3 separate regions of the Homo sapiens genome follow, and regions 2 and 3 are each linked to region 1. Evidence: fine-mapped expression QTL. A gene starts in region 1. Each other region holds a variant in brackets. All regions are shown on one strand. Distances are between the middles of the regions.

What was found. PIP is the estimated chance that this variant, and not a neighbour inherited with it, causes the effect.
Region 2: its variant is the best candidate, but not a certain one, in a credible set for the expression of MRC2 in lung (TOPMed, PIP 0.71).
Region 3: its variant is the best candidate, but not a certain one, in a credible set for the expression of MRC2 in sun-exposed skin (GTEx, PIP 0.59).

The regions. Positions count from the first base shown.
Region 1 is chr17:62,621,217-62,632,049 of GRCh38, reverse strand. MRC2 (mannose receptor C-type 2) reads right to left here and starts at 4,380. Exons shown (of 30, transcript NM_006039.5): 1 at 4,130-4,380. The coding sequence starts at 4,247. LOC107985020 (a long non-coding RNA gene) reads left to right here and starts at 4,000. Exons shown (of 2, transcript XR_001752961.3): 1 at 4,000-4,205; 2 at 5,041-5,613. RefSeq lists enhancers at 643-1,499, 5,654-6,154, 6,155-6,655 and silencers at 3,751-3,820, 4,021-4,460.
Region 2 is chr17:62,382,848-62,393,680 of GRCh38, reverse strand. It overlaps EFCAB3 (EF-hand calcium binding domain 3), which reads right to left. Exons shown (of 10, transcript NM_173503.4): 2 at 10,628-10,718; 3 at 6,265-6,341; 4 at 1,716-1,859; 5 at 37-108. The coding sequence starts at 10,701. It also overlaps the pseudogene RNU7-52P. Among named protein-coding and RNA genes, the nearest start is that of EFCAB3, 7.7 kb to the right of the region's middle. The variant C/G (reference allele first, on the strand shown) is at 4,896.
Region 3 is chr17:62,463,473-62,474,305 of GRCh38, reverse strand. LOC112268200 (a long non-coding RNA gene) reads right to left here. Exons shown (of 2, transcript XR_002958142.2): 2 at 9,968-10,074. It also overlaps a transcript of TLK2 not described here. Among named protein-coding and RNA genes, the nearest start is that of TLK2, 9.9 kb to the left of the region's middle. RefSeq lists enhancers at 9,439-9,938, 9,939-10,440. The variant A/GA (reference allele first, on the strand shown) is at 5,237.

The sequences.
Region 1 (10,833 bases):
GGCGTGGGAAAGCGGCCCCCTCCCATCTCACGTAGGCCTGAACAGGAAGACACGCTTCCTATCAGCAGTGCTCAGGCCTTCCAAGTCCAGGGACCCCCACTGGAGACACGGTGGGGAGGTCTCAAATAAAGAATAGGCCATGGCCATCTCTACTTCAGTTCTGCAGGAGCTCAGCAGACACCCACTGAAGGAATGAATGAATGAATGAACAACCATGTGAATCCTTGACCTCAGGGAAGCTGGAGTGCCATGCTGGGGCACCTTGAGTCACTCACTTATCAATGCCTTCTTGGAGGGGGTCCCTCAGAGATCCTGAGGACACTGCAGGCGGCTCGGTCCAGGCCTCCTGGACCCACAAGGAAGTGGCTGACCCAAGCGCCCAGACCGCTGACATGTGACAGAGGGCTGCTCGCTCCACCCTCCTCCTCAGGAGTCCTCCCGGTGGGACACATTGAGAGGTGTCCTAGAGGGCTTGGAGTTATGGGGGCGGGGAGAACACATAAGGCAGAATTTCCCAGGCTTTCCTAACACACACACACTGACAGTGCTTCATGCGATGGAAACGCTGTATGGTACTGGAGCGTTCAGGCTCCGTAACCACTCCTGGGTTCGAATCTCACTGGTAACACCTTCTAGTGGTGTGGTGGCACAGCCTTGAGTGACTCCCTTAACATCTTTAACATTTTCACGCCAGGTGTGTGCAAATCTCTGACACCTGCTCAGAGATGGGAGGTGCCGAAGAGCTACTGCCAGCACAGGACCCAGCACGGCGCCCACCACATGCACAGCGCAGCCGTGGGTGCCATCGCTCCATCCCTCTGGGGGTATGGACAGTGCAACAGGACTCCTCCTCGATGCTTAAACTGATGAGGAACTCAAATGAATATCTGCCTGAGAACTGCATGGCACTTCCGAAATCATCTCATTGAGCCAAGTCACGGTGCCCTACGTGCATCAGAAAGCCAGGATTTCTCTGGTGCGAAAAATGGGGGCCAAAACCCGGGGTTCTTCCTCCCCTCCATGTACCCTCACCTTGCCCAGGTGAACCCAGAAGAGAGCCAGGATCCCAGCACTAGCCACAGCTCGGCTGGGCACCTCCTGGGCCCTGATGACTCACAGAGAGCCAGAGGGTTGGAGCAAGGAAAACTGAGTTTTGCGTGGGGGAACAGTAAGAAGTTTCCGAACCCCACGACTCAGCAGAAGCTGGGCCAGAAGTGTAGGGAGCTGGTCTGGCTGACTCTGGTCAGAGCCCCAAGTACCCGATGCCACCCTCCCTGTCCTTTAGGCAGCACCGACCTTCCCCACAGGAAGATTTCCTGAGGTCTCCTCACCCCATGGCCTTGAGACTTGATCCCTGGAGCTCCCAGAAGCCCCTTTCCCAGCAACTATCCCCTCATTCCTCTGCTCGGAAACCTCCAAGGGTCCCCTGGGGTTCCCCACAGCCAGCTTGCAGGTCCCATCCCCATTCTGGCCTCCCAGGCACCTCTTTCACTCAACCTTCTCCCCGGCCCAGCCAGCAAGCTTCCACATCATCCCCAGAAGAGCCCAGCCTGGTGGCCCCTTCCTGCCTCTCTCCAGACAGCCTTGGCCACCCTTTGGCCCATACGGTCTCTCCTGCCTCCAATCTCCAGACGGGAAGCATCCACACTCCAGCCTTTCACTTACTAGGGGTGTGACCAATGTAAATGATCAGACCCCTCTTAGCCTTCATTTCCTGAACTGCAAAAATGGTCCAACAATAACCATCTCCTTGGGTTGTTATCAAAATGAAATGGGAACTTGCACATGAAGGGTTGAGCGTGGGTCTGGGCAGGCAGGCATCCCACCAATGGCATTCTGCCCCCTACGCAGTTCACTGTTCCACGTTTCATTCTCCCACACGATTTTCTTTTTCCAGAGGATGCATCTTACACTCTTCTCTACCTTCCCTCCTCCCCAAGAACTTGGCTCAAGGCTGAGCAAACTGCATGCTCCAGAAATGCGGTAATATGGCAACTAACAAAGAGGACTCCTTCCAGTGACAGTCTCCGCGGGCCACTCCACCAAGGTGGAGAAAAGATGGATTCCACCATCACGCACCAAGAAGGCACTGCCGCCTCGCTGCCCCTGCCCCGTGCTCTGGGCACACAGGGCTCCCCCATGGTGGTCAGGAAACTGCCCACACGCAGCCCCTGCCCTGCCTGGCATAAGCCTCGCCCCCAGCAGCACTGGCCTGCCACACCCTACCTCCCACATGCATTTCCTGGGCTATTTGGTCTCTGGTGCTGGTGAATTCCTCCCAACAACAACGTAATTCACCAGGTACTAGGGGCTGCCAGCTCTTCGGGCAAGGAATTCGGCCCAGAGGCTCTGAACAGGCTTCCCAGGGTAGGGCCCAGTGGAATTTGGCAGGGCAGGGGCAAGCGCACTCTGTGCAGAGGGCACGGTTCCGAGGGAAGGAACCTGCAGCAGCTCCATCCTCCTCCTGCTCAGCTGCTGCTGGAAGACCTCACACTGCCTGCCACCCAGATCCAAGCCTCCTCAGGGTGTGGTCAATGCAGTGCCAACGGGAAGGGGACCCTCTGAGGCTATTCATCCCTGGACACAGCCCCAGGGAGGGCCAGGCACAGAGACCAGGAGGAGGAGGGACACTCCAGGCGTCCTTGTCCTCCCTGACCGGGCCTCTCACCAGGCACTTCCAGCCCCCTCTATGAAAAGCTCCAGGGGGAAAGGCCGAGTCAGCACTCTGGCCACAACTCTCTCCCAGGGCCTGGCTTTAAAGTGTGCTCTGGAGCTCTGGGAATGGCCATCCTCCCCACCCCTTCCCACCGCCTGCCTCCTGAGGCCCTGCGCAGAGGAGCAGAGGAAGGCAGGAGTGCGAGGAGGTAGGGGAACTGCCTGTGAGGCCGCCCTGCAGTGGGTTAGGGGGTTACCCGGCCTGGTTTGTGTCTGTCCCACATTCAATGCCAGGTGGGCCCAGAATTGCCCCGGGGGTCTCCGGTTGGTGTGAATGTGGGTCACCGTGGCCCCCACCTTTCCCATCTGGCAGATATGTGTCTTGTGCCTACGTCACGCCAGGCCAACCCAGCAAGCACGGGCCAGGCTGGAGGCCCCAGACTCTCCAGGGGGCTGTCTGGTCCTTGCACAAAACTGCAGACACTGCACGGACTGTCCCCATCCCCCAATTAAACAGCCAGCAGGACCAAGCTGGGCCGGGCGATTCCCCCGGTCACTCCAGACACCCCCACCCCCACTCCCCCAGGAAGTGGATCTTTCCTTTCAACTCTTAGATTCTTGGCGAGGGATCTGTCTGTCCCCACACTTCACTGTTACCCCTGAATAAGGAGCAGGAAGAGAATGGCACAGTTTTGGGGTTTTCTGATTTTTGTTTTGTTTCCTGTTCGTTGGGTTTTAAAATCTTTAGCAGCTCTTTTGCCGCTCAAGGTCTGTCCCCTCTGGAGGGCCACTAGTGTGCCCAGAGCTGCCCACGCTACGCAACATCACAGCACGGCGGCGCCCAGCCTGTTGCTGCGTCCCAGTGGCAGGAGCCTCCTCACAGGGCTGCCGAGCTCACGCGGGGCGGATGCCGCGCGCCACAAGCCTCCTTGAAGACTAAGTGTGGAAAAGAAAATATCAACGCCCACGAGATGCAGGGGGCGGGGGGAAGGTGGGGGAAACGAACCCTCGCGGATAGTTGGAAAGCCGTCCTAACGCATCAGTCCTGGGGCAGAGCGAGGAGACTGGGCCCGGGAACTCCCGGACAGAGAGCCCTGGCTCCCCGGGCGCGCCCTGCAGGTCCCCTGCCGAGGACGGGCCGGCGCCGGGTGGTCCGGGAGCGCGGTGCGCGGGGGTCCTCAAGAGCCCACCCGCTTCCTCCTAGGCTGCTGGAGTCCCCCGGGCTCCCCTCCCCCGCCGCCCGCCACATCTGGTTCCACTCAGGTCCTCCCCCACCTCTAGGCGCGCTCCTCCTCCCCTCTCCTCCCCCGCTTTCAGAAAAGCGGAGACGAGTTTTAAAAACCCAGTCACACACACACGCACACACGCTTCTGGAGAAAAGAGGGGGGAAAAGGAGGGAAAAGTCGAGAGCGGCCCGCGCCTCGGCGCTCCCCCCGCCCGGGCCCTGAAGTTGGCCAAGTTGGCAGCGCCTTACCCGGGAGGGCGGCGTCCCCAGGGGCGCCGGGACGGCCGAGGTGCAGGCACCCGAGGAGCAGGACGCAGCGCAGCAGGTGACGAGGCCAGGGCGCGGGGGCCGGCCGGCCGGGCCCCATCCCCGAGCGCGGCGCTCAGTGGACGCGGGGACCGAGGGCGCACAGGCGCAACGCGCTGTGGCAGCCCCGAGGCTGGGCTGTGATGACCGCCCGCAAGGGGCTCGCGTCCTCCTCCGGGTCGGGACGAAGTGATGCCTCCCGGGGAGGAGGAGGGAGGAGGCAGCCCGGGCGGAGGGAGGGCGGAGGGAGGAGCGCAGAACCGGGGAGGAGGGTTCGAGGGGTAGAGGGGAAGGGAAGTGGGCAGCGTGGGAGGGGAAGGGGAGGAGGCGCGGGTCTGGGGCTAGAGCGTCGGGAGGGAGAGAAAGGGGTGGCGGAGAGGAGGACACGCCGGGTCCAGGAGGACCCCAGCGTGCGCCCTTTCTCTTGCTGCTCTGTTTCCCAGTCTCTCCCCGCCTCGCCTTCCCTCTCTTCTGTCCCGGCCAGGATCCCCAGACGCTGCGTCACAACTCCCCCGCTGGCGCGGGCGGGGAAGCAACTGCAAAACTTTCCGCAAACTTCACGGCGTGGTGGGACCTGGGCTACGAGGTCCGGCCAGCCCGGGGCGGGGGCGTGCAGCTGACCCAGGTGGCCAGACCCGGGCCGCCAGCATCCGCCCCGCCATCCCGCCTCTTTCTGCGGGCGTCTCCAGCAGCCTAGCATCCCCTACCTCCATGCCGAGGAGGACCCCTCCCCCGGTCTGGTGGGGAAGGGGCGGAGCCCAGGGCCTGGCCACCAGGGCGAAGATTGGGGGAGGGGGAGGCAGAGCCCTTGTTACGTGTGCGGAGCGCAACAATTCTTGCACGTCTTGTTTTAGCATTTTCGTGACCCCTGTGTCAGTGTTCCCGGTGCAGGAGTGTAGCACTTTTGCTTGTTGGGGCTGCATCCAGAAACCTGGGGAAAATCTGTCCACTGGACGTCTCAGAAGACCGGCATCATCACTCCCACCAACTGGACTGCTGGCCGGTAGCAAAAGACCAGCTGGAAATTTCATAAAAGGTTAGACAATCCACAGTTACTCAGTGTTACGCAACAGGTCTCTGCAGCACAGAGCACGAACTGGGGAGTCAGGATGCTGGAGTCCAGCCCTGCCTCTCTGCGGATTCCCTGCCTGACCTTGGGAAAGCCTCTTGGGGTCTCGGGGCATAGGGCAGGACTGAGACGTTGAGACCCCAAGTGCAAAGAAGACACATTTCTCCTACCACGAGTAATCAAAAACACTATGAAACTGTAATATGGGCCGGGTGCGGTGGCTCACGCCTGTAATCACACTTTCGGAGGCCGAGGAGATTGAGCCCAGGAGTTGAAGACCAGCCTGGGCAACATAGGCAGATCCCATCTCATTTTGTTAATATAAAATTTTTAAATAATAATAAAACTGTAATATAAATTGTATTGTTTCCTATCTTGTCCACCTTGGTATGTTTTTTGGAAATAAATTCAATTTTTTTCCTTTTTATTCCTCCTATCTTGGGTAAATGTTTCCCCAACTCTGCAGTGGGGGTGTTGGGTCAGAAATGCTCACTCGTCTCTTCCCATCTCTGTCAGGCTGAGGCTCTTGGTAAACAGTCCAGTGGTAATAGAGCCTCGAAGCAAGCCCCCACTGAAATCCCCTAGAGGCCCCTGGAAAGGGTCCCATTAGCCACCCTTTGGTTAGCAGCCAGACCAACAAAGCCCCTGCACTCCACGGCTAGCTTCAGCAGGTCCGACAGGGCCAGGTCCCTTCTGGTGGCTGTGGCTCCACTGCCCCTTGGGACATGTCTTCTTGGTGTGGCATGTTCTGGGATCTCAGTCCTCTGCACACAACAGGCCATGCTGGAGCTGCCTCAGAGGTCCCCCTCTTGGCCTTCCCTCTTGCACAATCCTGTAATCTCTGAAGGATTTAAGGATTTGCCGGCTAAGCTGCTCTCTCGCTCTCAGAACACAGGATACTCCTTCCCCTGAAACAGGGCTGGATTCCCCCTTCTCCAGCAGCTTGAGTAGGTTTCGGCGTTTCCTGCTGGCCTTCCCTCCTACTATCAGTGGCAGGACAGAAGCCCACCCCTTGACATCACCAGCGCAGAGCATGAGGCCAGAGAGCCCACCACTTGCCGGCACCAGGTCCCGCCATGCCGGGCACACAGGAGGTGTGCTCTCGTCTCTTCACCCACCGGCTCAACAAGCACCGACTGCTAGCCCTGTGCTAGCTGCTAGAGAAAGAGAGATGGGCAAACACAGTTGCAGCCCTAGAGGAGCCTCATTTAGTGGGGGAAAATAAACGTTTTGCCATATTCCAGGCAAAGAAGACGCAAGGGCTGAGGAGCACAAAAGTGTGCTGCTCTCGCAGGGACAGAGGTTGGTTCAAGCTTCTAAGGCCCAGTTCTAGTCTCTGTCAAGGGTGAGACTTCCTCCTCCAGCGCGAGACTTCCTCCTCCAGCGCGACATGGTTCCACACTGTGTTCCACTGACTTCTGCTGATGTCTGCAGCTGCCAACTGCTTTTGATCTTGACTTTGGGGCAGAAAGCGGGGAAACATCTGGGAGATTCTCCCTGTGGAGAATCCGGGCCGGTTCCCTACTGCATAAAGATCCTGTGCAGGCTCAGTTGTCAACAGAACATGGTCACAGTCTGTAGGAGTGTTGGGTGTTGTGAGCAGCATGGGACTTTCGAGGAACCCCTCATCAACACCCAGACCTTCATCTGCTTCCAAAGAAGGGCCAGCGTCCTCTGTGCCCACAGCCTCCTCACCATTCCTGTGCCCACAGTTGAACAGCCGTTTATTGAGGGTCAGTATGTGTCAGGCATCAGGCTAGATGCTGGAGACTTAGTGAGGTCTCTGACTTGTCCAGGGGATTTTTGCCAAGATGGTATTCGCTATCGTGGAACTGAAGCTGAGAATGGTTCTCCCCTAGACACTGACCAACTGTCAGCCAGCAACAGGTACTGAGGGTGATATGGTTTGGGATCTGTGTCCCCGCCCAAATCTCATGTCAAATTGTAATCCCCAGTGTTGGAGGTGGGCCCTGGTGGGAGGTGATTGGATCACGGGGGTGGATTTCTCATGAATGGTTTAGCACCATCCTCTTGATGCTGTTCTCATGACAGTGAGTTCTCACGAGAACTGGTCATTTAAAAGTGTGCAGCACCTCTCCACTCTCTGTCTCGCTCCTGCTCCAGCCATGTGAACTGCTGCATCCCTTCCGCCATGATTTTAAGTTTCCTGAGGCCTCCCTAGAAGCTGAGCAGATGCCAGCATCATGCTTCCTGTACAACCTGTGGAACCATGAGCAAATTAAACCTCTTTTCTTTATAATTACCCAGCCTCAGATATTTCTTTTCTTTTTTTTTTTTTTTGAGATCAAGTCTCACTCCATTGCCCAGGCTGGAGTGCAGTGGTGCAATCTTGGCTCACTGCAACCTCCACCTCCTAGGTCCAAGCGATTCTCCTGCCTCAGCCTCCTGAGTAGCTGGGATTACAGGCACGTGCCACCATGCCCAGCTAATTAGTAGAGAGGGGTTTCACCATGTTAGCCAGGCTGGTCTCAAACTCCTGACCTCAGGTGATCCACCTGCTTCAGCCTCCTAAAGTGCTGGGATTACAGGTGTGAGCCACCACACCCGGCCTGGTCTCAGGTATTTCTTTATAGCAATGAGAGAATGGTCTAATCCTGTATTAGCATCACCCCCTGTGGGTCTGCTAATTTCATCAAAACCAGTTTACGCCAGGTGTGGCGGTTCAGGTCTTGTAATCCCAGCTCTTTGGGAAGCCAAGGTGGGAGGATCACTTGAGGCCAGGAGTTAACAATCAGCCTGGGCAACATAGCAAGACCACACTTCTACAAAAATTTTTAAAATTAGCTGGGCGTGGTCATGGTGGTATGCACCTGTAGTCCTAGCTACTTGGGAGGCTAAGACAGGGGAAGTACTTGAGCCCCGGGATTTGAGACTGGAGTGAATCTATAATCACCACTGGACTCCAGCCTGAGCAACAGAGCGAGATCCTGTCTTTAATCAATCAATCAATCAAACAGTTTAGTGGAAGGAGTACAGACTTTGGATCCAGAGAAACCTGAGTTCAAATCCTGACTTCGCCATTTCCCAGCTTTGTAACCTGCAGCAAGTTATTAATGCTTTAACTCTGAGCTCACAATAATTCTTACTTGTAAATGGGGCAACTTGAGATGTTTCCTACCTTGGGAGTTAAATGTTAAGTGTAAAGCAATGGCATGGCCGCTGGATGAATGGGGATGTTCAGGGAATGTGGTCTCCTCCATCTCCCATCTTCCTTTGCCATTTGGACATCAGGGTCCTTACCCTTCACCCTGCCTGTCTCTCCCCTACCCTCCCACCCTACCCTGCCCATGAAATCTGCACATATCAGTTTTATCGGATTGTAACATTGAGTTTTACTTTGCCTGGGAAAACAATACAACATCCCTGCATTTTCTGAACATCTCCATATTTAATTGTGTACAAAAATGGTACCCTAAAGTGTAAAGTAATCTAATAAGAAGCATGCTCACTTTGGCTAATAAATGTGTGTCCATAAACAGCTCGGCATGGGGCAGTGGGGTGAGTCCAGGCCTGGGGAGTGGAGGTGAGTGGAGTTCCGGCTCTGCCATTCACTAGCCACATGTCCTCGAGCAAGTCATTTCCCTTCCCTGAGTCTCAGGTGCCCTGTGAGGTGTAAGTTTTGGTGTCATTACTCACTGTGCTTAGGGATCCTCTGGCATTACTCTCCTCTTCTCTGGTTCTGTGGCTCAGGAGCCTCTCCAGCCAGAGGGTTCCCAGGGGAGCAGAGCACTCCAGCAGGCCAGGTCTACAACAGAAGCTTAGGAAAGAAGAACTCAAGACAGGGAGGGAAAATGCAACTGGATGGCTTGGTAGGGTAGGAGGCTATAAAGAAAGACTTGGGCCGGGTGCGGTGGCTCACGCCTGTCATCCCAGCACTTTGGGAGGCTGAGACGGGCGGATCACAAGGTCAGGAGTTTGAGACCAGCCTGGCCAATATGGTGAAACCCCTTCTCTACTAAAAATACAAAAATTAGCCGGGTGTGGTGGCGGGCGCCTGTAGTCCCAACTACTCAGGAGGCTGAGGCAGAAGAATCACTTGAACCTGGGAGGCAGAGGTTGCAGTGAGCTGAGATTGCGCCACTGTATTCTAGCCTGGGTGACAGAGTGAGACTCTGTCTCAAAAAAAAAAAAAAAAAAAAAAAAGACTTGGCCAGTCCTTGCCTGAGGCAACTAGAAAAGAGGCAGTGACCCCAAAGGGTTCTGTATGACCTGCCCCACCCTGCACCTTCTCCAAGCCAGGGAAGAGGACTGGCCAAATGTGGGGCTGGCCCAAGTGGGTCTCACCCTCTCTTCTCCCTGGCTCCTGCATCTCAAATCCCCGGGGCTCCACTCAGGCAATCCACTCCAAGTCCATCTGGCTACACCCTCGTCTACACCACCAAGGATCCTAGAGGGGACTGGGCTAAAGAGGGAAGGAAGAAGGCAGGCTCAGGATTCAGAAAGACCCATAGTTCAATATCTAGTTCAACCTCTTCCAAGGGTAACTTAAAGGAACTATTTTTTCCCACGCCCACATGACTGGGGAACCTTATAGCTGGTCTGTCTTCTCTTGACTGGTCCACCCCAGCCCTCCTCACCATTCATCCAGCCACAGTTACAACCTGACAAAAATTCTGCCCACTTTCTCTAGGTTCTTTCCCTTCTCCCTTCTGTGGAGAACACCTAGAAGGGCTCCCCGATCCCAGGAAAGCCTCTGAGTTTATATCCACTCACTTCCAACCCAAGGCCTGTATTAGAAGAGGAATCCTTAGGCCAGGCGGGGTGCCTCACGCCTGTAATCCCAGCACTTTGGGAGGCTGAAGCGGGTGGATCACCTGAGGTCAGGAGTTTGAGACCAGCCTGGCCAACATGGTGAAACCCCATCTGTACTAAAAATACAAAAAATTAGCCAGGTGTGGTGGCGGATGCCTATAATCTCAGCTACTCAGGAGGCTGAGGCAGGAGGATCGCTTGAACCCAGGAGGTGGAGGTTGCAGTGAGCCGAGATGGTGCCATTGCACTCCAGCCTGGGCAACAAGAGCAAAACCCTGTCTAAAAAAGAAGAGGGATCCTTTAAAGGGACCCCAAATCCCAGCCTTTTCTCTACCAAGGGCTAAGAGATAGTTACCTCACAGTGTCTTCCAGGAAGCAGGAAGTACAGATTTCCTCTCCATGAACCTAGGAATCTGGACATCGACTCTCACTTGGAGGAGCCACCACGAAAACACTGTGAGCTGCCAGCGGAGTAAGCTCAAAGCGGGAGGGCTCAGGACTGCGAACCCCGGCTGCAGCAGGGGTCACAAAGCAAATGCCTCTCAGATCCTCGCTGGCTCCTGTCTCCACTGGGGAGGCTTGAGTGGGTCAGGAGCAAGCTGGCTAAGGGGAGCTCAGAGAGGGACAGAGGTTGCCCTGAGGCGCCGCAGTAAGGAAAAGAGGGCATCACAGAGCTGAGCTGAAGAACCAGTTGTGCATGAGTGAGATGGAGTCCCCAGAACTTTCTACTGCCCTCCCCAGCTGGGGAGGCGGGGAGGAAAGGGAGTCACTGAGATGGAGCAGGACGCCACTTAGGGCTCTGCTG
Region 2 (10,833 bases), 240 kb after region 1:
GCCCAACTGCCTTCTGTTCATAACATCTCTACTCACCCACTGCCTTGAGGAAGAGATTCTTATCTGTTAGAACCTTGATAAAGTCTGAGAAGTTCACCTTCCCATCTCCTGCAACAAAAATCTGAGACTCAGGACAAGGATAAGATGTATTTTAATTATCAGAGTATATATTAAATATAAAAATTAAAACACTCTGGATGATTCAATATTAAAAACAGAGCATTTGAGGGCTGGAAATATGCTCAGGTGAGCCCTGGTCTTCTTGAAGTGGTCTTAGCACCATTACATCAGTCCTCCACAGCCCACAGAAGCAACGGTGGTTGTAAACATCCAGCCAGGAGCACCCAGCCATTGCAGTCTGTCCACCTGCTCCTTTCTCAGAGACTGGCCATGTTTGCAAGGAATCTGTCCTGTCTTCCCATGCTATAACCACCCCTATTATTCCTATTATAACATCCCCAAGCTGTATTCCATTTCCTCTAAAATTGAAGGATGATGAGTATTATTAGAGGGGTATGTGTATGTTTCCATGAAATAATAGAAAATTTTGACACAGTTAGTAGAAGCAAGTGACACCTTAAGTGACACTGAATGACAGGTGGAACTGATGTTGATTGAGTAGGGCACTAGCAGTTGGGTGGAGAGAGGTGAGAGGAGATAATATGCTGAATATATTTTTCACACAGCATATCAGTTTGGGCTACTAATAATTCGGTCAGTATATTCACTAAAAACATTATCTATGGCTGGGCATGGTGGCTCATGCCTGTAATCCCAGCACTTTAGGAGGCCGAGGCGGGCGGATCACGAAGTCAGGAGATCGAGACCATCCTGGCTAACACGGTGAAACCCTGTATCTACTAAAAATACAAAAAATTAGCCGGGCATGGTGGCGGGCGCCTGTAGTCCCAGCTACTCAAGAGGCTGAGGCAGGAGAATGGTGTGAACCCAGGAGGCGGAGGTTGCAGTGAGCTGAGATTGCGCCACTGCACTCCAGCCTGGGCAACAGAGCAAGACTCCGTCTCAAACAAAAAAAAAAACATTATCTGTATGCTTTAAAAATACCAACAAAAGTGCTGTGGCATTTAAAATTCAATATAGGTGGGACTTGATGGAAAAAGAAAGATTTGTTCTGTTTTGATTCAAACAGAAACAAAAGGCTTGAATTCTCTTGGTAACATGTCATTATTAACATTGTTACTGCTTTTGTACATCAGGACAGGTAACCTGAATTTGATACTGAAATCAGACAATCACTCTTAGCTTCCACACAGTGTTTTTCAAATAGTCCATTTTCTAGGATTAATTTGATTTCACAACTTGTACACATACCTCACTGATCTCCTTAAAGGGACATACATACATACACACGCAGACACACACATATATGTGTGTGTCCCTTTAAGGCTATATATATATGTGTGTGTGTGTGGTGTATACATAGATATATGGATATATACATATATGTATATTTGTATATAGTATTCAAATATATAGTCTACAAACATATAATATACAAATATATATATTTGTACTATATATTTGTGTATATATATATTTAACATATACAAATATATATATACACACAAATATATATATATTTGGGGGGGCAAGTAAATAAGATTTGTTTCTCATGTTTATACAGTCATTAAAAGAAAACTATATATTCACAAAAATCTTTTATGAGAAAAACAATGAGAAGCCAAAGGACTCACGATCAATATCAGCACATTTCAATTCATTATAGACATCATGCTTGGTCAGATTCATTCCCAGCTTAGCTACAGTGCACATCAGTCCATGGAAATCAATACAGCCAGTTTTGTCCTTGTAGAAGAAGTTGTAGGCATCTTGGAAAGCTGGGGAGATAGGATTAAGTTATTCAGGACAGTTGTTCAAGAAGAAGTACATACACTAATAGGACTAGGACAGACAATATAGTTGACTGGAGATCATGTTCTAAAAAAAGGATTGCGAAAAAAATGAGTGCTTAATAGACATTTCTTATAAAGGACAGTATCCTTCCACGGAACTTGAACTGGAATGAACTAACTGTTGCAAAACCAAGTGTTGGTAGGTAAGATGGCTTTCCAAAGATATCCACACTGTAATCCCTTAACCAGTGAATATGCTATCTTACATGGCAAAAGGGACTTTGCACATATAATTAAGATAGATTATTCTGGGCTCAATCTAATTACGTGATCCCTTATATAGCTAGAAGCTGGAGAGACGTGGCAGAAATCAGAGAGGTTTAGAGCATGAGAAAGACCTGACCCACCATTGTTGATTTATCAGCCAGGAGCTTCTCTGCTTGCTAAAGAGGCTGAGAAGCTCCTGGCTGATAAACAGCAAAGAAACTGGAATGTCAGCCCTGCAAGAAAAAAGAACAGAATTCTGCCAAAAATCTGAATGAGACTGGGAGCAGATTCTCCTCCAGGAGATCCTCGTGGATCACGAGGTCAGGAGATTGAGACCATCCTGGCTAAGGACAGGCTGGCCAACACCTTAATTTCAGTCCTATAAGACACAGAGAAGAGAAACCAGCTGTACCCACCTGGACTTCTGACTTATAGAACTGTGAGATAATAAATTTGTGTTGTTTTAAGCTGTTATGTTTGTGGCAATTTGTTACAGCAGCAATAGAAAACTAATTTGTCAAATTGGACCCAAATCACATATGTGTGTATGTATGTTTTGTATAATCCAAAGTTTTTCAAAGAAATAGTCAAGGCACTAACTGGAGCCAAAATTAGGTATGTATTTTCTGAAATTAGAGAATGACGAAATAAACCTGGAACAAAATATATCCCAAATGACACCCGAATAAAACTTACTTCATATCACATTCAAGTCTCAGCGTCTCTATGTATAACAGTGATTAATCTCCTACAGAGATAACGATACCTGCTCTGTAAGTGTGTAATGTAAAAGGTAACATCTTTCTCCTTGATAAAAGGTAGGCTTCTCTAGGGCTGGAACCAAACTATCTCTGACTTGTTTCTGTTTTTCCCACTATCTCTTGCATGTTAGTAGGCAGTCAACAAATATTGATTGCATGCTTTCCATGGACCAGGTATTGCTCCAAGTGCTTTGGATATATTAGTGCACTAAATAGACAAAGATCTGTGCCTTCATATAAATGTAATAAATAGGTAAACTAGATGCCATTTTAGAAGGTGGTATGTACCATGGAAAAAAGAAAAAGTAATTCTGGGTGGATGATTAGAAAGAAGAGAAATAGAATTCCTACACACTCCCACCTCCATGTCTACTTCCTGACCAGCACCTGTACCTGCATGATCTTCCTTTCTCTCTGCGCTGCAAATAAACTGTATGCTCTTACCCAGAGCCAATCCCTCCCTTGTGGATTGGAACTCATCCCCTCTCTCATATTCAAAGAATTTACTGAAGAAAGGGTCTCCTCTTAGGTAAGGGAAATATCATTTTTTCATTTTCTATTATATCAATCCTATTGTTGTATAAACTTTTGCTGTTTCTCCCTTAAAAAGTACACTGTGACCCCATTTCCCCCTCCGGCTATTGCTACCTCTGCCATTTGTCTCTTCTTCCTATTGAAAATTTAATCATTTATGGCCGGGCACGGTGGCTCATGCCTGTAATCCCAGCACTTTGGGAGGCCAAGGTGGGTGGATCACGAGGTCAGGAGATCGAGACCATCCTGGCTAACATGGTGAAACCCTGTCTCTACTAAAAATACAAAAAATTAGCTGAGCGTGGTGGCGGGTGCCTGTAGTCCCAGCTACTCAAGAGGCTGAGGCAGGAGAATGGCGTGAACCTGGGAGGCGGAGCTTGCAGTGAGCCGAGATGGCACCACTGCACAGAAAAAAATAAATAAATAAATAAAAATTAAATAATTAGTCATTTATTTCTATCAGTGTGGATTCATGGATGTTTATTTTATACTTTGGGTTATAATCAATTCTATATTATTAATTTTTATTGCTCAAATAGAAAAAGTTGGTGGAAGGCAGAGTATATGGATACAGATGCTGGTAAGGAGGTAGACATGGAGGTGAGGGTCTACGGAAATTCTAATCTGATTGCTTCAGTTTTCTTTGGGAAAGTAAGCAGACCAATTGACAGTAAGGATGGGAGATGCTGGGGATCTTGAAGTATTCAATAAATATTTGTAGAATGAACAAATTAACCTCTCATAGGAAAGTTGTGAGGATTAAGCACTGTAACGAACACATTTTCTAGTTTCCATATTTGATGTTTTGATATCTGGGGCCTTGCTGGCCCTGGAGGGACTGCCCCTCTCAGGGCTGGTCAATTCCTAGAATAGTGACTACTAGATTGTGAGTGTGTCTTTCCTCTGCAAACCATCCAATTCCATAGACCATATTCCAGAGACCATATCCTCAACCACCTGCCTTCTCCACCTCTTACAGTCAGAGACACTACTTCCCTGCCCTAGTCATCCCAGGGCTAGGTACCAGACAACTAGGGACAGCCCTTACATGCCAGAGCCCACTGAAATTGTTTAAACTAGCTAACCCCATACCTGCTTACCCTGCCTTGTCCATTCCTTCTTGCAGAAACCACAATAGAGTTTCTTGTCCACATGCTGCCCCTGCCCACTTCCTGACTGACCCTGGTGCTTCCTCTTGTGGCCCCACATGCTTGGCATGCTGTGCCCTGTTTCTAGGGATCTGTGAGTATGAAAAACTTCCTTTGTGGCCATCATTTCTGCGTCTGCCTGTCTCACCATATCTGACTAAAATAGACCCCTTAAAATGAGTACCAAAGTATCTTAAGGCACTTTAGAAACCTTAAAGGTCTATAAAACCATAAGCTGTTATTATTAAGGCATTTAGCTCAGTTTTACAATGAAAAATGCCAATCTGATCATGACAATCCTTTGTGTTTTC[C/G]AAACCGAAATTCCCAGCAATAAAGGTTGATTGATTATAGAATGAACAAATTAACCTCTCATAGGAAAGTTGGGGATTAAGCACTGTAAAGAACACATTTTCTAGTTTCCATATTTGATGTTTTGCTATCTGGGGCCTTGGTGGCCCTGGAGGGACTGCCCCTGTCAGGGCTGGTCAAGGTGGATTGATTCTTTGATTCATTTCTGTCTCCTGGGTCAATTTCTAAATTGGTTCTAAATTTAGTGGGGTAAAGCATCAGCCTCTTCAGAAACCAGATGCAACCCAAACACAGCCACACTTGACTTCTTTGAATTTTTCTAGTGCATCATGCTTTCCCTTTTTTCTGGCCTTTGTAGATTCTGCTCTTTCTGCCTAGAAACTCCTGTCAGCGCTATTTGCCTGATTTACTCCTGTTCGTCATTCAGCCTTCTCTGGGACTCCCTTTCTTCCCTCACAAGACCAAATTAGGAGGCTTTCCTTTAAGCTCCTATAACACTCCATGCTTTTCCTATCATAACTTGTGTTATATTGTAATTTAAATGATTTATTCAGCAAGTTCATGGCTTTTTTTTTTCGAGACGTAGTCTCGCTTTGTCGCCCAGGCTGGTGTGCAGTGGCGCGATCTCGGCTTACTGCAACCTCCGCTTCCTGGGTTCAAGCAATTCTCCCTGCCTCAGCCTCCCAAATAGCTGGGATTACAGGTGCCCGCCACCACGCTCAGCTAATTTTTGTATTTTTAGTAGAGACAAGGTTTCACCATATTGGCCAAGCTGGTCTCGGACTCCTGACCTCAGGTGATCGGCCCGGCCTGCCTCAGCCTCCCAAAGTGCTGAGATTACAGGCGTGAGCCACCGTGCCTGGCAAGTTCATGGTTTAACAGCCTGTCTTCCCTATTAGACTTCCTATCAGGGCAGGGACCACATCTGACTTGTTTTGTTGTTTCCCACGCCTAGTACATTTTTGGCATTAAATAAATATTTGTTGTTTGGATGAATAAACTTTAGCCAGTGTAGCTCATTTTATATTGTTTTCTTTGAGAAATCCTAGGACTGTAGCTGTGTTTGTGTTCTTTATTACTTGATTTATATTTGTTCTTTTGTTATTTTTGTTCTTTTTGCGTTTGTTCTTTTCCATACCCACAAGTTCTTCTTTGAATACAGTTATTTGACCAGCACTGCCTAAATTCTAGGGAGATGTCCATTTAAAAGCAATTTCCCTCCTGTCCCACAAAAATGTAAGGTTTTTTTTCCTTTCTCTCAAATGATGGTGGTGTAGACAACCCTTGAAATCTCAGATCTTTCTTAGAGAAGAAAGGATCAGACATATTAAGGAGCTGTTATGCTTCAATTTTGAGGATGATTCTCATTACCTGCCATTTGTGAAGCACTTAGCTTCTTTTCTTTGTGTTGTAATTGGCATTGAAGAGATCCTGGTAAGTCTCTATCCCTGAGGAAAGATGTGAAAATATTTAGATTTACTACCTATGTGAAACCAGCAGATATTAGTCTTACTCATCAGTTTCTGCTTACTGGAATGACTGTAGCATCTCAATGTATCCAGTCTACTATCCTAAGGGATCTTCTATTTAGGATAGCCCATAGCTACAGGATGAACAGTGAGAAAATGTTGGCCACTGAGATCCTCCTCTGCCCTAAACTTGCCCATCACCCTTCCCTTAAAAAATTATAATTTCAGGCCAGCCATGGTGGCTCATACCTGTACTCCTACCCCTTTGGGAGGTCAAGGCAAGAGGATCGCTTGAGCCCAGGAGTTCAAGACCAGCTTGGGCAACGTAGCAAGACCCTGTCTCTACAAAAACATAAAAAAAAATTAGCCAGGTGTGGTGGCACAGGCCTGTAGTCCTAGCCACTCAGGAGGCTGAGGTGGGAGGATTGCTTGTGCCTGGGAGGTCAAGGCTGCACTGAGTCATGATTGCACCACTATGCTTCAGCCTGGGTGACAGAGTGAGACCCTATCTCAAAAAAAAACAAACCCCAAAAAACCAGTTACGATTTCCCCCATTTTACAAAATAAGAAACAGAAGCTCAGAGCAATTAAATAATTTGTCTCAGGTTATACAGATAGTAAATGGAAGACCTGAGATTCAAACCCAGATTTGTCTGACTCCAAAAGTCAAGGCCATAATGCTTTACACTATTCCTGTTGTTAGAAAGAGAAGTTGTTTCAATTTTCTTTTTTGCTGGCTCCAATTCTCAGCCTTGAGTTTCAAATTTTAAAACTGTATAAACGTTGTTGTGGTGAATACCCTTACAGAGAAACCTCTGTATCTATGACTATTTTACAACTTTTTTTTTTTTACAACTTTTACAACTATTTTACAATCGTCAAACTGTATTTTTACCAGCATATGTATGGGTGTATAAGAGAGTGAAATAAAGATAGAGAACACCTCTGAAAATTTGAAACCCTGGGTGACCTTTCATTTATTGAGGAAAGTAAAATCTGGAAAAGGCAGGAACATATTAATACTTTCAAGATACTTTGTACAGATCTGAAGTAATTTATTAGTTTAAGAACACAAAAATGTATCATGTAAAACTGAGTTTGCTTATAATATGATAAATAAAATTTAATTACATTTAAGTAAATGTGATTTAACTCCAAAATTTAATTATAACCAATTTTATAAATTTATTTAAAATGCATTTAGTTTTGATACTTGTAAAACTAAAAGTTTAAAAAATATGAAATCTCATAGTTTTGTGGCTTTATAAGAAGCAGTTTAAAAAGTAAAACTAGGCCGGGTGCGGTGGCTCATGCCTGTAATCCCTGCACTTAGGGAGGCCAAGGCGGGTGGATCACGAGGTCAGGAGATCGAGACCATCCTGGCTAACATGGTGAAACCCCGCCTCTACTAAAAATTAAAAAAAAAAAAAAATTAGCCGGGCATGGTGGCGGGCGCCTGTAGTCCCAGCTACTTCGGAGGCTGAGGCAGAAGAATGACATGAACCCAGGAGGTGGAGCTTGCAGTGAGCAGAGATCACGTCACTGCACTCCAGTCTGGGTGACAGAGCAAGACTCTGTCTCAAAAAAAAAAAAAAAAAAAAAGTAAAACTAGAAGAAATACTAAACATTGTAGTTAAACAAAAAATTATTATGGTTTATTAATTTAGTATCCCCTAAAGTACTTATTAGATTCAACTCATTTTCAAAGAGGGGCCTGGGAGAAAAGGAGGTGATAGTCTCAAAACTGTTCTTAACTTTTGAAAGTGGAATTTTATCTAACTTGTCTTATTTTCTCAGTTTTTACTAACATTGCTTTCTTCTTCTGGTGCTTCCTCTTTATTATCTACTTGAATTTCTTCTCTTTCTCTCATTCTTTCAAGACAGAGTCTCCCTCTGCAGTCCAGGCTGGAGTGCAGTGATGTGATCGTGGCTCACTGCAGCCTTGACCGCCCAGGCTCAAGGATCCTTCCACCTCAGTTTCCTGAGTAATTGGAACTATAGGTGCATGCCACCATACCCAGCTAATTTTTTATTTTTTGTAGAGACAAGATCTCCTTATGTTGCTCAGGCTGGTCTTGAACACCTGGGCTCAAGTGTTCCTCCCACCTCTACCTCCCAAAGTGTTGGGATTACAAGTGTGTGCCACTGTGCCCAACCTGTAATTTCTGAAGCTCAGGTTTGTCCTTATTCAGATAGGTTATTTTATATTTATTGTACAGATGTTCCTTGATTCATGATGGGGTTACCTCCTTATAAACCCATCATAAGTTGAAAATATTGTAAATTGAAAATGCATTTAATTTGCCTAACCTACATAGCTTAGCCGAGCCTACCTTAAATGTGCTCAGAACAGTTACATTAGCCTACAGGTGGGCAAACTCATGTAGCACAAAGCCTATTTTGTAATAAAGTGTTGAATGCCTCATGTAATTTATTGACTCCTGTACTGAAAGTGAAAAACAGAACAGTTGTATGAGTATTTGAAGTAGAGTTTCTACCAGATGCATATGGCTTTTGTACCACTGTAAAGTCAAAAAATGGTAAGTTGAACCATTGTTAAGTTGGGGACCATCTGTATTTCTAAATATAAACAAATTTCTTTTGCATGATGTAGAAGATGCAGTACATGGAGAAATACTATGTTCTCAAGAAGCAGGAGGAAAGTAGAATTCAAGGCAGTGTAAAGATCTTTTATTTTTCTTTCAAGACAGGGTCTTGCTCTGTTGCCCAGGCTGAAGCACAGTGGTGCGATCTCAGCTCACCCTAACCTCTGCCTCCTAGGCTCGAGCAATCCTCCCACCTCAGCCCCTTGAGTAGCTGGGACTACAAGTGTGCACCACCACACCCAGTTAATTTTTGTATCTTTTTTGGTAGAGGCTGGTCTCAAATTCCTAGGCTCAAGTGATCCACCCGCCTCAGCCTCTCAAAGTGCTGGGATTACAGATGTGAGCCACCGTGCTAGGCCAGGCAATGTAAAGTTCTTATTATCTGTCTTTAAAAAGACACTCTTGGCACAATTTCAGACCTTATCTTGGATCAAACATTGGAGAAAGACTTTATTTTTCAAAGTTTCAAATGACTGAAGAACCTTACATTTGGAATGAACCCAATCCAGCCTTCCATCTAATGTAGGAATTCCCTTTACATGTAGTATTGTCTAGTCTTTGCTTAACTACTTTCAGTGACAAGGAACTCACTCCCTCAAAAGACAGCTTGCATAGTCAAGGACACTAGAAAAGATACACTCAAAATAGAAAGTAAATGGATAATTGTGAAAGAGAAAAAAATGTTCTTCTTATGATCTGATAAAATATAAATCAGGCTCTCATTTTTGCTCATTAGTGGCTGTTAATTGAAATTTGTTGTTAGGTGACTGAGAAAAAGCCATTGTTAATGTCACAGGTAAATCTCCCTTCCCAATTTTAGCCCAGGGTCAGTCATGGCTAATTTACCAGCTTTCGTTTACCAGCTATATTTGAAATATAGACCCTTTTTCTACACTTTGACTTGGTTATGGGTTTAGGTCTTCTTTATGATCTTCTAAATTTTTTCTTCTTTAAACTGGCACTCAAAATATCTCAAGGTATAACTGATAACTTCTTGAGCCCCCTAGGGTATTTTGTATCCTAACATAAAAACAGCTTCTCCTTTGGGAGGACAGGAGGGAGAATTCTGCTCTTCCTATCAAAAAAGATGTATATCTTTTTCTTTTCATAAAAAATATTTCTCTTCAATTCCGATGTTTTGTTTTATAACTAAAGTTATCATATAATAAATATTTGAAGAGTATTTTAATTGTTTCATCATAATCTTTATGAGCATTTAATATATTAGTAATTTTTTTTTGAGATGGAGTCTTGCTCTGTCACCAGGCTGGAGTGCAGTGGCACAATGTCAACTCACTGCAACCTCTGTCCCCCAAGTTCAAGCAATTCTCCTGCCTCAGCCTCTCGAGTAGCTGGCACCACAGGCGCACACCACCATGCCTGGCTAATTTTTGTATTTTTAGTAGAGACGGAGTTTCACCATGTTGGCCAGGATGGTCTCGATCTCTTGACCTCATGATCCGCCCACCTCGGCCTCCCAAAGTGCTGAGATTACAGGTGTGAGCCACTGCATCTGGCCAATAATCTCAATAATTTTCTTTTTTTTAGGGGCTTCCCAGTAAAGATCGGAAAACCTGCTAGACAAAATTCTAAAAGAGCTGTAACACTAATAATTCTTTATCATAATACATTTATCACCCTTAATCATTCATTACCTACCTTTTATTGTGGGAGATGGGTACTTTTGTTAGAGGATTCAGCTTAAGTTTTGGTTTAATTTCTGAAACTGCCATGTGGCCAGTGACTCTGTCTGGAATTCAGAATATACAATTAAGAAATCAGTTTACAGATTCATTCTTTATATTCTTTTGCAACTTTTTCAGCTCAAAGCCTGGAGTTTGAAAAGTCTAGGGCCTCAAGAAATG
Region 3 (10,833 bases), 160 kb after region 1:
GAGATGGAGAGCATCCTGGCTAACACAGTGAAACCCCGTCTCTACTAAAAATACAAAAAATTAGCCGGGCAAGGCAGCGTGTGTCTGTAGTCCCAGCTGCTGGGGAGGCTGAGGCAGGAGAATGGCATGAACCCAGGAGGCAGAGCTTGCAGTGAGCCAAGATCCCGCCACTGCACTCCAGCCTGGGCGACAGAGCGAGACTCGGTCTCAAAAAATAATAATTAACAAAAAAAAATACAAAAGTTAGATGCGCATGTTGCCATATGCTCGTGGTCCCAGCTACTCGGCAAGCTGAGGTTGGGAGATCACTTGAGCCCAGAAGGTGGAGGTTGCAGTGAGCTGAGAACCCACCATTGTACTCCAGCCTGCGTGTCAGTGAGATTCTGTCTCAAAAAAAAGAAAAGAAAAAAAATCTAGGCTATGCTCCCTAGTATGGGAAATCTAGTCTAGTCATTTGGCAGAATCAGGCTTTGCGGGCCATATTGTCTCTGTCGTAACTACCAACTCTGCTGGTTAAAAGGGAAGTAGCCACAAACAATGTCTGAATGATGGATTATGGCTGTGTTCCAATAAAACTTTATTTGCAAAAACAGGTTGCTGGTTGCAAGGTAGTTTTCCAACCTCTACGTGATTCTCAGACTTTAGGTTGCATCATAATCACCTGGAGGGCTTGTTCAAACGCAGATTGCTGGGCCCCACCCCCAGAATTTTTTATTCAGCCAGTCTGGGGTGGGGCTGATATTTGTATGTCTAACAACTTTCCAGGTGAGGCTGGTTGATGATGGTCTGGAAACCACTTTGAAAACCTCTGAAGCTTTTCTCAACTCCCTTTGTGTACCTAAAACACTTTATCCCTACTGTAGATGTAGTATTTAGCGTGTTATATTAGTTTAGTGATTGGTGTGTGGGTCTCTGGGAGCCTTTCTGAATCACCTCCCTAGCCTAGTGCCTGACAATAGCAATTTGCTCCCCATTCATTGACTGAACTGAAACCAGAGGGTCATGGTCATCATCATTGTTCCAAGCCATAGATAGAAGATGAAGTCACCACCCCCGATCTCAGAGCTCATCAGAGTAGAGCTTGGGCTGGACTATGCCCTTCTCTGCAGTGAGCAGTTTTCTCTGTGGAGCTCTGCAACCTGGAGCCAGCCCTGCCTGGGGTAAGAGGAAAAAGGACTCCTTCCCCCCAGCCCCACAGCCTGTACGCAAACACACCAGGAGACATGACCTGCTCAGAGGAGACCTGGAACCAAGGGAATAAAATGAGAGTGGGTTGGGGGCTTGGCTGTTTGTTATTTTTTTGCTTGTAAGTGGACAATTTGTGGTGTGGTGTGTGAATTTGGGGTCTTAAATCCAGATAGCTGTCTGCTGTGGACAGCCACTGTTTCTGAATTACAGGGCATTTCAAGTGACCTGTGGTCAGGATGTTTTCTCTCAGATCAGGCAAAATCAATTGGTCCTGATAATAACCAGGGGAGTTGTACTTTCCCTATCTTGAGTAGAAGACACAGCTCCCAGGTCCACCTGTCTCTCCTGACTGCCCACCTCCTGGCTTTTTTTTTTTTTTTGAGACGGGGTCTTGCTCCGTCGCCTAGGCTGGAGTGCAGTGGTGCGATCTCAGCTCACTGCAACCTGGGCCTCCTGGATTCAAGAGATTCTCCTGCTTCAGCCTAGCAAGGAGCTGGGATTACAGACGCGTGCCACCTCGCCCAGCTAATTTTTTTTATTTTTAGTAGAGACGGGGTTTCACCGTGTTAGCCAGGATGCTCTCGATCTCCCGACCTCGTGATCCACCCACCTTGGCCTCCCAAAGTGCTGGGATTACAGGCATGAGCCACCGTGCCCGGCCAGCCTCCTGGCTTTTATCCTGGGGGCACTGCAAGTAGAGCCAGGCATGTGGCCCATGCATCCTTCCCAGCCTCTCTTTCCTGCTGGGCATGGAGGAGGAGGCACTGCCAGGAGCTCCCCACAGACAGGCGCTGCTTACTAATGGGTTGGCTGCAAACTGTAGGCATAACAGTTACCTTCCTCTTCACGACCCCTAGGCCTGACGAGGCTTACACAGGAATTTCTTTGATTTGTGAAGTCTTAAGACTATACTGCTGGGCGCGGTGGCTCACGCCTGTAATCCCAGCACTTTGGGAGGCTGAGGCAGGCGGATCACGAGGTCAGGAGATCAAGACCATCCTGGCTAACACGGTGAAACCCCGTCTCTACTAAAAACACAAAAAATTAGCCGGACATGGTGGGGGGGCGCCTGTAGTCCCAGCTACTTGGGAGGCTGAGGCAGGAGAATGGCACGAACCCAGGAGGCAGAACTTGCAGTGAGCCGAAATCACACCACTGCACTCTGCACTCCAGCCTAGGCGACAGAGTAAGACTCTGTCTAAAAAAAAAAAAAAAAAAAAAAAAAAAAAGACTATACTACCTAATCTTCCATGCCTCGCTCTTTCCACGTTAATAGACAAAACCAGGAAAAAGGACTGCTCCCCCTCCTGCTCTTGACTGGGCTCCATAAGAACTGCCAAAAGGCCAGGCAGTATTTGCTACTCTTCTGGGGTTCACTTCTGAAAGGTGCGACCCTGCAACCTAGAGCACAGGGAAGTTAGGACAGCAGAGGAGCCGGGCCGAGCCGACGCTGGCTTAGAACTCTTTCTGATACTCCCTGTTCCCGCCAGCTCGTTAGCCCAGCCTGCCAATCAGTTTTGCATCAATAAACTTTATGTTCTGAGGTTGGCCAGATGAATGAGAGGAGAGCAGCTAAAGACTGATCTCTGACCTTGGCACATAAACAGCCTCCAGATTGGACTTGACAGTTAATAAAGGAAAGGCCCTGCAATTCTCTGATGCCTTTTTGCCTTAATTAGATTGAGCATTCAAAGGCTATGGGGAAATCTTCCATTTGAAGAGAAAAACCTCACAAGACAGGAAGTCACTTCACTCATTCATTCTTTCAGACTGTCAATCATTCGGTCTACAGTCACTGGCATTTGTCAAATGCCCTATTACCTGTGCTCAGCACTATGCTAACTGCTTTTGAGTCGAGTGGCTGCAAGAATTCCAGAAGTCCATGCCGTGCTCTTCTGGAAGACTGCACAGCCAGGCAGTCAAGAGCACAAGCTTCAGTTTAACATATCTGAGCTCAAATCCTGATTCTGCCATGTGACTTTTGGCAAGTTACTTAAACTCTCTGCCTTTAGTTTCCTCTTGGAGTAAATAATACCAACCTCCACAGGCTGTCATCAAGGCCAAATGAGACCATCTGTGTAAAGTGGGCAGCACAGAGCCTGGTGCTTGGCAGATGCCTGGTGGCCATGAACATGACAGTGCCTGCACCTGGCTGAACTGTCAGGCCGAGAAGCTTCCCTTCCTTCCCTCTCTCCCCTCCCCCATTCCTGGCATGCTGCCAGTCACTGGGGAGCTGGTGATGACTCACAATCCCTGCCCTCAGTGATATTATAAATCTATTGTTGGCCGAGCACTGTGGCACAACGCTTGTAATCCCAGCACTTTGGGAGGCTGAGGCAGAAGGATCACTTGAGGCCAGAAGTTTGAGACCAGCCTGGGCAACATACCAAGATCCCGTCTCTACCGAAAATTTAAAAATTAGCCAGGCATGGTGGTGTGCACCTGTAGTCCTAGCTACTTGGGAGTTGGGAGGCTAAGGCAGAAGGATCGTTTGAGCCTCGCAGTTCAGGGTTACGGCCTGGGTGAAAGAGGGAGACCCTGTCCCTTTAAAAATAAAAATAAAAAAAAACTATTGGCCAGGCACTATTGGCTCATGCCTGTAATACCAGGACTTTGGGAGGCTGAGGCAGGTGGATCACTTGAGGCCTGGAGTTCAAGACCAGCCTGGCCAACAGGGTGAAACCCTGTCTCTACTAATAATACAAAAAATTAGCCAGGCGTGGTGGCACATGCCTATAATCCCAGCTACTCAGGAGGCTGAGGCAGGAGAATTGCTTGAACCTGGGAGGCAGAAGTTGCAGTGAGCCGAGATCACACTGCTGTACTCCAGCATGGACAACAGTGGGAGACTCCCTCTCAAACGTGCACACACACACACACACACACACACACACACACACACACACCAAAAAACAGGACGGCCGGGCACAGTGGCTCATGCCTGTAATCCCAGCACTTTGGGAGGCCAAGGTGGGCAGATCATGAGGTCAGGAGTTTGAGACCAGCCTGGCCAATATGGTGAAACCCCGACTCTATTAAAAATACAAAAATTAGCCAGGCATCATGGCACGTGCCAATAGTCCCAGCTACTTGGGAGGCTGAGGCAGAAAAATCGCTTGAACCTGGGAGGTGGGAGGTTGCAGTGAGCGGAGATCGTGCCACTGCACTCCAGCCTGGGCAACAGAGTGAGACTCAGTCTCAAAAAAAAAAAAAAAAAAAATTCCCTGAACCCTTTCATGCTATATTTGCTCGCACATACAGGTTTCTTCAGTGTTAACCGTGTTCATCACATTGATGTGCTGTTTCACTTCATGCTGTGTGATGTGAACTTCGGCCAGAGCAAGGAGAAAGCAGTATATACTCTGAAAAGGACCCCGCACCGTGTTCACCCAAACAGCACCTCGTCATGCATCTCAGAGCCCTCGGCCTCTGGGCCACCTCCTCACTCCCCCAGGGGTGCTCTGAAGCCTTAAACAGTCTGCTTTTCTTTTTCTTTTCTTTCTTTCTTTCTTTTTTTTTTTTTAACAGAGTCTCGCTCTTGTTGCCCAGGCTGGAGTGCAGTGGTGTGATCTTGGCTCACCACAACCTCTGCCTCCCGGGTTCAAGCGATTCTCCTGCCTCAGCCTCCCGAGTAGCTGGGATTACAAGCATGCGCCAGGGATTACACGCCTGGCTAATTTTGTAGTTTTAGTAGAGATGGGGTTTCTCCATGTTGGTCAGGCTGGTCTCCAACTCCCGACCTCAGGTGATCCACCTGCCTCAGCCTCCCAAAGTGCTGGGATTACAGGTGTGAGCCACCACACCCGCCTCTCTTTTTTTTTCTTTTTTCTTTCTCTTTTTTTTTTTTTTTTTTTGAGAAGGATTCTCGCTCTGTCACCCAGACTGGAGTGCAGTGGCGAGATCTGGGCTCACTGCAACCTCCACCTCCCGGGTTCAGGCGATTCTCCTGCCTCAGCCCTCTGAGTAGCTGAGACTACAGGTGCCCACCACCACGCCCACCTAATTTTTTGTATTTTTAGTAAAGACGGAGTTTCACCGTGTTAGCCGG[A/GA]TGGTCTCACTCTCCTAACCTCATGATGTGCCTGCCTCGGCCTCCCAAAGTGCTGGGATTATAGGCGTGAGCCACCATGCCTGGCCAGCAGTCTGCCTTTCACGTGCCTCTTTGTATTTATTGGTTTTTTTGTTTTTTTTTTTGGAGACAGAGTCTCAGTCTGTCGCTCAGGATGCTGGAGTGCAGTGGCACAATCTTGGCTCACTGCAGTCTCTGCCTCCCAGGTTCAAGCAATTCTCCTGCCTTGGCCTCCTGAGTAGCTGGGACTACAGGCACACGCCACCACACCCGGCTAATTTTTGTATTTTTATTAGATACAGGGTTTCGCCATATTGGTCATGCTGGTCTCGAACTCCTGACCTCAGGTGATCTGCCCACCTCAACCTCCCCAAGTGCTGGGATTACAGGCATGAGCCACCATGCCTGGCCTTCTTGTATTTATTGGTTTTAATCCTCAATTAGAAACGTCTTAGGCAATTGTCTAGTTTTTACTAGCTATCTTTAATTCTTTTTTTTTTTTTAAGTGAAATGAAGTTTATTAAGTAAGTAAAGGAATAAAAGAATGGCTACTCTGCCAGGTGCAGTGGCTCACGCCGGTAATCCCAGCACTTTGGGAGGCCAAGGCGGGTGGATCACTAGGTTAGGAGTTCAAGACAAGCCTGGCCAAGATGGTGAAACCTCGTCTCTGCTAAAAATACAAAAATTAGCCAGACGTGGTAGTGGCGCATGCCTGTAATCCCAGCTACATGGGAGGCTGAGGCAGAGAATCGCTTGAACCTGGGAGGCGGAGGTTGCAGTAAGCCGAGATCGCGCTATTGCACTCCAGCCTGGGTGACAAGAGCAAAACTCCGTCTCAAAAAAAAAAAAAAAAAAAGGAATGGTTACTCCATAGGCAGAGCAGCCACTATCCTTAATTCTTAAATAACCCAGGCTCGTGCTATTCAGTATATGCTTCCCATCACTTCCTAAAGGGACCATGAGCGTACTGGAGTTCAGAGTCCTTTGAGATCTCCTAGTTCAATCTCCTCATGTTACAGATGGAGAAACTGAGTCTTGGAGGTGTGGGGACTTAATCTTTCCTCTTGTCTCCCTCCCTAAACCAATAAACAATCTTCACCCAGATCGTCAACACAAACCCACAAATCCCACCAGTTTTTCCCTGCGGGAACCTCCCCATTGCTCTCCTGGCCCTTCTTAGCAGAGAGCCCCATATCCTACGTAGAGTACAGAGGGGAAGTCATCAGACAGGAAAGCCCCCCACCAAGTTGCCCATCTGACGTGTGGCTGCCCCACACTGGGCAAAGGCCACCCTCCAGGCCCTCACTCTGGGCCATCCACCTGCTCCTCCAGGATTCTGCCCTGCACCTCTCACCCCTGGCTGACATAATCACCTTCTCCTCCTCCCTTCCATGAGCATTGCTTTCAACACACATTTATGCTCCCATTCTTCAAAAAATTTCTCAATTGTATGAAACTTTCTCTTGACCCTGCTAGTCACCCTTCCTTTTTGTAATTAAAATTTAAAAAAAATTTTTTTTGAGGCGGAGTCTCACTGTCGCCCAGGCTGGAGTGCAGTGGCCCGATCTTGGTTCACTACACGCTCTGCCTCCCGGGTTCACACCATTCTCCTGCCTCAGCCTCCCGAGTAGCTGGGACTACAGGCGCCCACCACCATGCCCAGCTAATTTTTTGTATTTTTAGTAGAGACGGGGTTTCACTGTGTTAGGATGGTCTCAATCTCCTGACCTCATGATCTGCCTGCCTCGGCCTCTCAAACTGCTGGGATTACAGGCGTGAGCCACCGCGCCTGGCCTCTTTTTTTTTTTTTTTTTTTTTTTTTGAGACAGATTCTCGCTCTGTTGCCGAGGCTGGAGTGCAATGGTGTGATCCTGGCTCGCCGCAACCTCCACCTCCTGGGTTCAAGCTATTCTCCTGCCTCAGCCTCCTGAGTAGCTGGGATTACAGGCACCTGCCACCACGCCCGGCTAATTTTTGTATTTTTATTAGAGACAGGGTTTCACCATGCTGGCCAGGCTGGTCTTGAACTCCCGACCTCAGGTGATCCGCCCACCTCGGCCTCCCAAAGTGCTGGGATTACAGGCGTGAGCCACCGTGCCCGGCAAGCCCGGCTAATTTTTGTATTTTTAGTAGAGATGGGGTTTCACCATGTTGGCCAGGCTGGTCTTGAACTCTTGACCTCAAGTGATCTGCCGGCCTCGACCTTCCAAAGTGCTGGGATGACAGGCGTAAGCCACCGCACCCAACTTAGTTTTTTTTTGGAGACAGGTTCTCAGTCTGTCATCTAGTCTGGAGTGCAATGGCAAGATCTAGCTCACTGCAACCTCCGCCTCCTGTGTTCAAGCTACTCTCCTGCCTCAGCCTCCGGAGTAGCTGGGATTACAGGCAGGCGCCCGCCACCACGCCCAGCTAATTTATTTATTTATTTATTTAAATTTTTTGAGACGGAGTTTTGCTCTTGTTGCCCAGGCTGGAGTGCAATGGCGCAATCTCAGCTCACTGCAACCTCCGCCTCCTGGGTTTCAAGTGATTCTCCTGGCTCAGCCTCCCACGTAGCTGGGATTACAGGCATGCACCACCACACCCGGCTAATTTTTTGTATTTTTAGTAGAGACGGGGTTTCACCATGTCAGCCAGGCTGGTCTTGAACTCCTGACCTCAGGTGATCCACCCGCCTCGGCCTCCCAAAGTGCTGGGATTACAGGAGTGAGCCACTGCACCCGGCTGCACCCAACTTTGTAAGGAAATAATTAAGCTGAAAGAGGAGTTGAAAAAATATTAAAATATTCTTCACCTAGATTTTTCCAATTAGCATTTTGCCATCTGTGCTTTCTCTGTGTATGGGGTATGTGTTTAATTTTTTGTTATTGTTGGAGCACTGGAAAGTTTCAAGTATCTACTCTTTCTGCCCTAAATACTACAATGTGTGTCTCCTACAGTTTCTCTCTTACCACACACCATTATCACACACAACAAATTCAGAGCTGCTATATATTATCTAATACAGGCCAGGCGTGGTGGCTCACGCCTGTAATCCCAGCACTTTAGGAGGCTGAGGCTGGAGAATCACTTCCTGAGCCCAGGAAGTTGAGGCTGCAGTGAGCTCCCTGCACTCCATCCTGCATGCCAGAGTGAGACCTTGTCTCAACAAAAAAAGGTATTATCTAATATGGAGTCCATTTTCCAATTTCCCCATTTGCCCCCAAAATGTCCTATATAGCTATTTTTTTAAGTATAAATATTTTTTATTTCAGAGATAGGGTCTTGCTCTGTCACCCAGGCTGGAATGCAGTGGTGCAATTGTAGCTCACCCACAGCCTCAACGTCCTGGGCTCAAGCCATCCTCCTGCCTCGGCCTCCGAGTAGCTGGGACTATACCCGGCTCATAGCTGTTTTTTAATCCAGAGCCCAGGCAGGGATGAGATGAGGCCAGGCACTGGTGATCATGCTGTTTTACTCTTCCTTCCCATCCCAATTTGGCTTCCAGATTCCTCCCTCCACCCAGAGGGCTCTGGTCAAAGTCAGGAGCCACTTGCATTACCAGATCTAAAGGATCCTTCTCGCTGGGCGCGGTGGCTCACGCCTGTAATGCCAGCATTTTGGGAGGGCGGAACACCTGAGGTCAGGAGTTAGAGACCAGCCTGGCCAACATGGCGAAACCCCATCTCCACTAAAAATGCAAAAATTAACTGGGCATGGTGGGCGCCTGTAATCCCAGCTATTCAGGAGGCTGAGGTAGGAGAATCACTTGAATCTGGGAGGTGGAGGTTGCAGTGGGCTGAGATGGCACCATTGCACTCCAGCCTGGCCAACAAGAGTGAAACTCCATCTCAAAAAAGAAAAAAAAAAGAAAGAAAGAATCCTTCTCTATCTTGTCTTCATTCTCTGTCTTCAGCAGGGACTCAACAAGGGCAGTTTCCTCTGAGTTTCTGGTTCACAGCACATTCCCATTTCCTCCCTAACTCAGAGATTTGTGGCTTCAAACACCAGTTGTGCACTGATGCCACCCACACTTCCAGCATCCAGGGGCGTCCAGCCCTGACCTGTGTCCCCCACTCCAGACTGACATGTTCCACTGCCTTCTCCACACTTCCATGTGTGTGTGCCATGGGTACCTCAATGGGTCTGAACAGAAGTCTTCATGTCTTCCCTTCTTCCCCAGCTCAGGAGCAGAACAGCACGACCATCACCACCATTTATCCTTGATAACAGCCTTTCCTTTCCCCCTCCAGCCCCTCCACCCACAGGTCCTCTTGGACCCACCTGTCTCCATCCTCACCTACATCGCTGAAGCCTGGCCCCCCATTCAGAGTCCAGAAGTATCCAGGGCCCTCCATGTGGCTCTCAGCTCTTGCCCCACCTCCACAGTACACTTTCCACAGTGCTAATCTCTTTAAAATGTAAATCAGATCTGGTCACTCCCTCCCTTAAAACCCTTTCATAGCTGCTCATTGGAGTGAAAAAAAAATCTCAGCTCCTTCTGGCTTATAAGGCCCAGGTGGTCCAACCCTGCCTCTATCTCATCTCCAGCCTCCTCCACCATTCTTGCCGGGGACCCTCCGGGGCCTGCCTTTAGCTGCTTGAATGCAGATATTTTCCTGTCTGGGGGCTTTTATACTTCCTTTCACCCTGGCCTGCCATGCTGTCACCCTGGAATATCCCCTGGCTGCCTCCCCTCCACCTTCCTGGCCTCCCAGAGCTCCCCAGCGCTTACTATCCAGATCCTGCTGCCTGGAGCGGGCTGTCCTCTCCATCTGGGGTCCGGGGCAGGGGCTCTGACTGGCTCAGCTCAGGACACATGCATGGCCTTCTCCATTCACCTGGACAAGGGCGGGGGTAAGGGATCATCATTTGGTCTAGATTCATTCTCATAATATTCATTATTATTATATGCATATTTTCTTCTGATTTTAAAATTAATTAAAACAATTTCCAGGGCCCCTAACAGTGTCATAGGCCTGATGGAGCAGCGGAACCTGCCTGAGGGTAAAGCTGAAGTTCCTCAGAAACCAGACGGCCTTACAGCCTCTTCACTGCTCTTTGAGATGGAAGAGAAGAAATGCAGATGAGTGCTTTCTGCTACAAATCTCATCTCTCCAAGCTGAAGTTGCCAAGGAACATGCCATCACTGTAACTGCTAAAAACACAACGTATAATGAAATGCATCTTCTACAAATGAATCTGTGAATACAGAATAGCCTACAGAGGTTGACAGTTTGATTCTGTTCTCTGCAAGGCATTAGAATTTCACTATGGGGGCCACTAGGACTGCTCTATTAATTAATTATGTGTATTCTATTGTTTTTTGTTGGTTTTTTTTTTCAGATGGAGTCTCACTTTGTCGCCCAGGCTGGAGTGCAGTGGCTCTATCTCAGCTCACTGCAACCTCCCAGGTTCAGGCAATTCTCCAGCTTCAGCATCCCGAATAGCTGAGACTGTAGGCGCTCACCACCACACCCAGCTAATTTTTGTGTTTTTTTTTTTTGTTTTTGAGAGATGGAGTCTTGCTCTGTCGCCCTGGCTGGAGTGCAGTGGCGCATGATCTCAGTTCACTGCGACCTCTACCCCCCGGGTTCAAG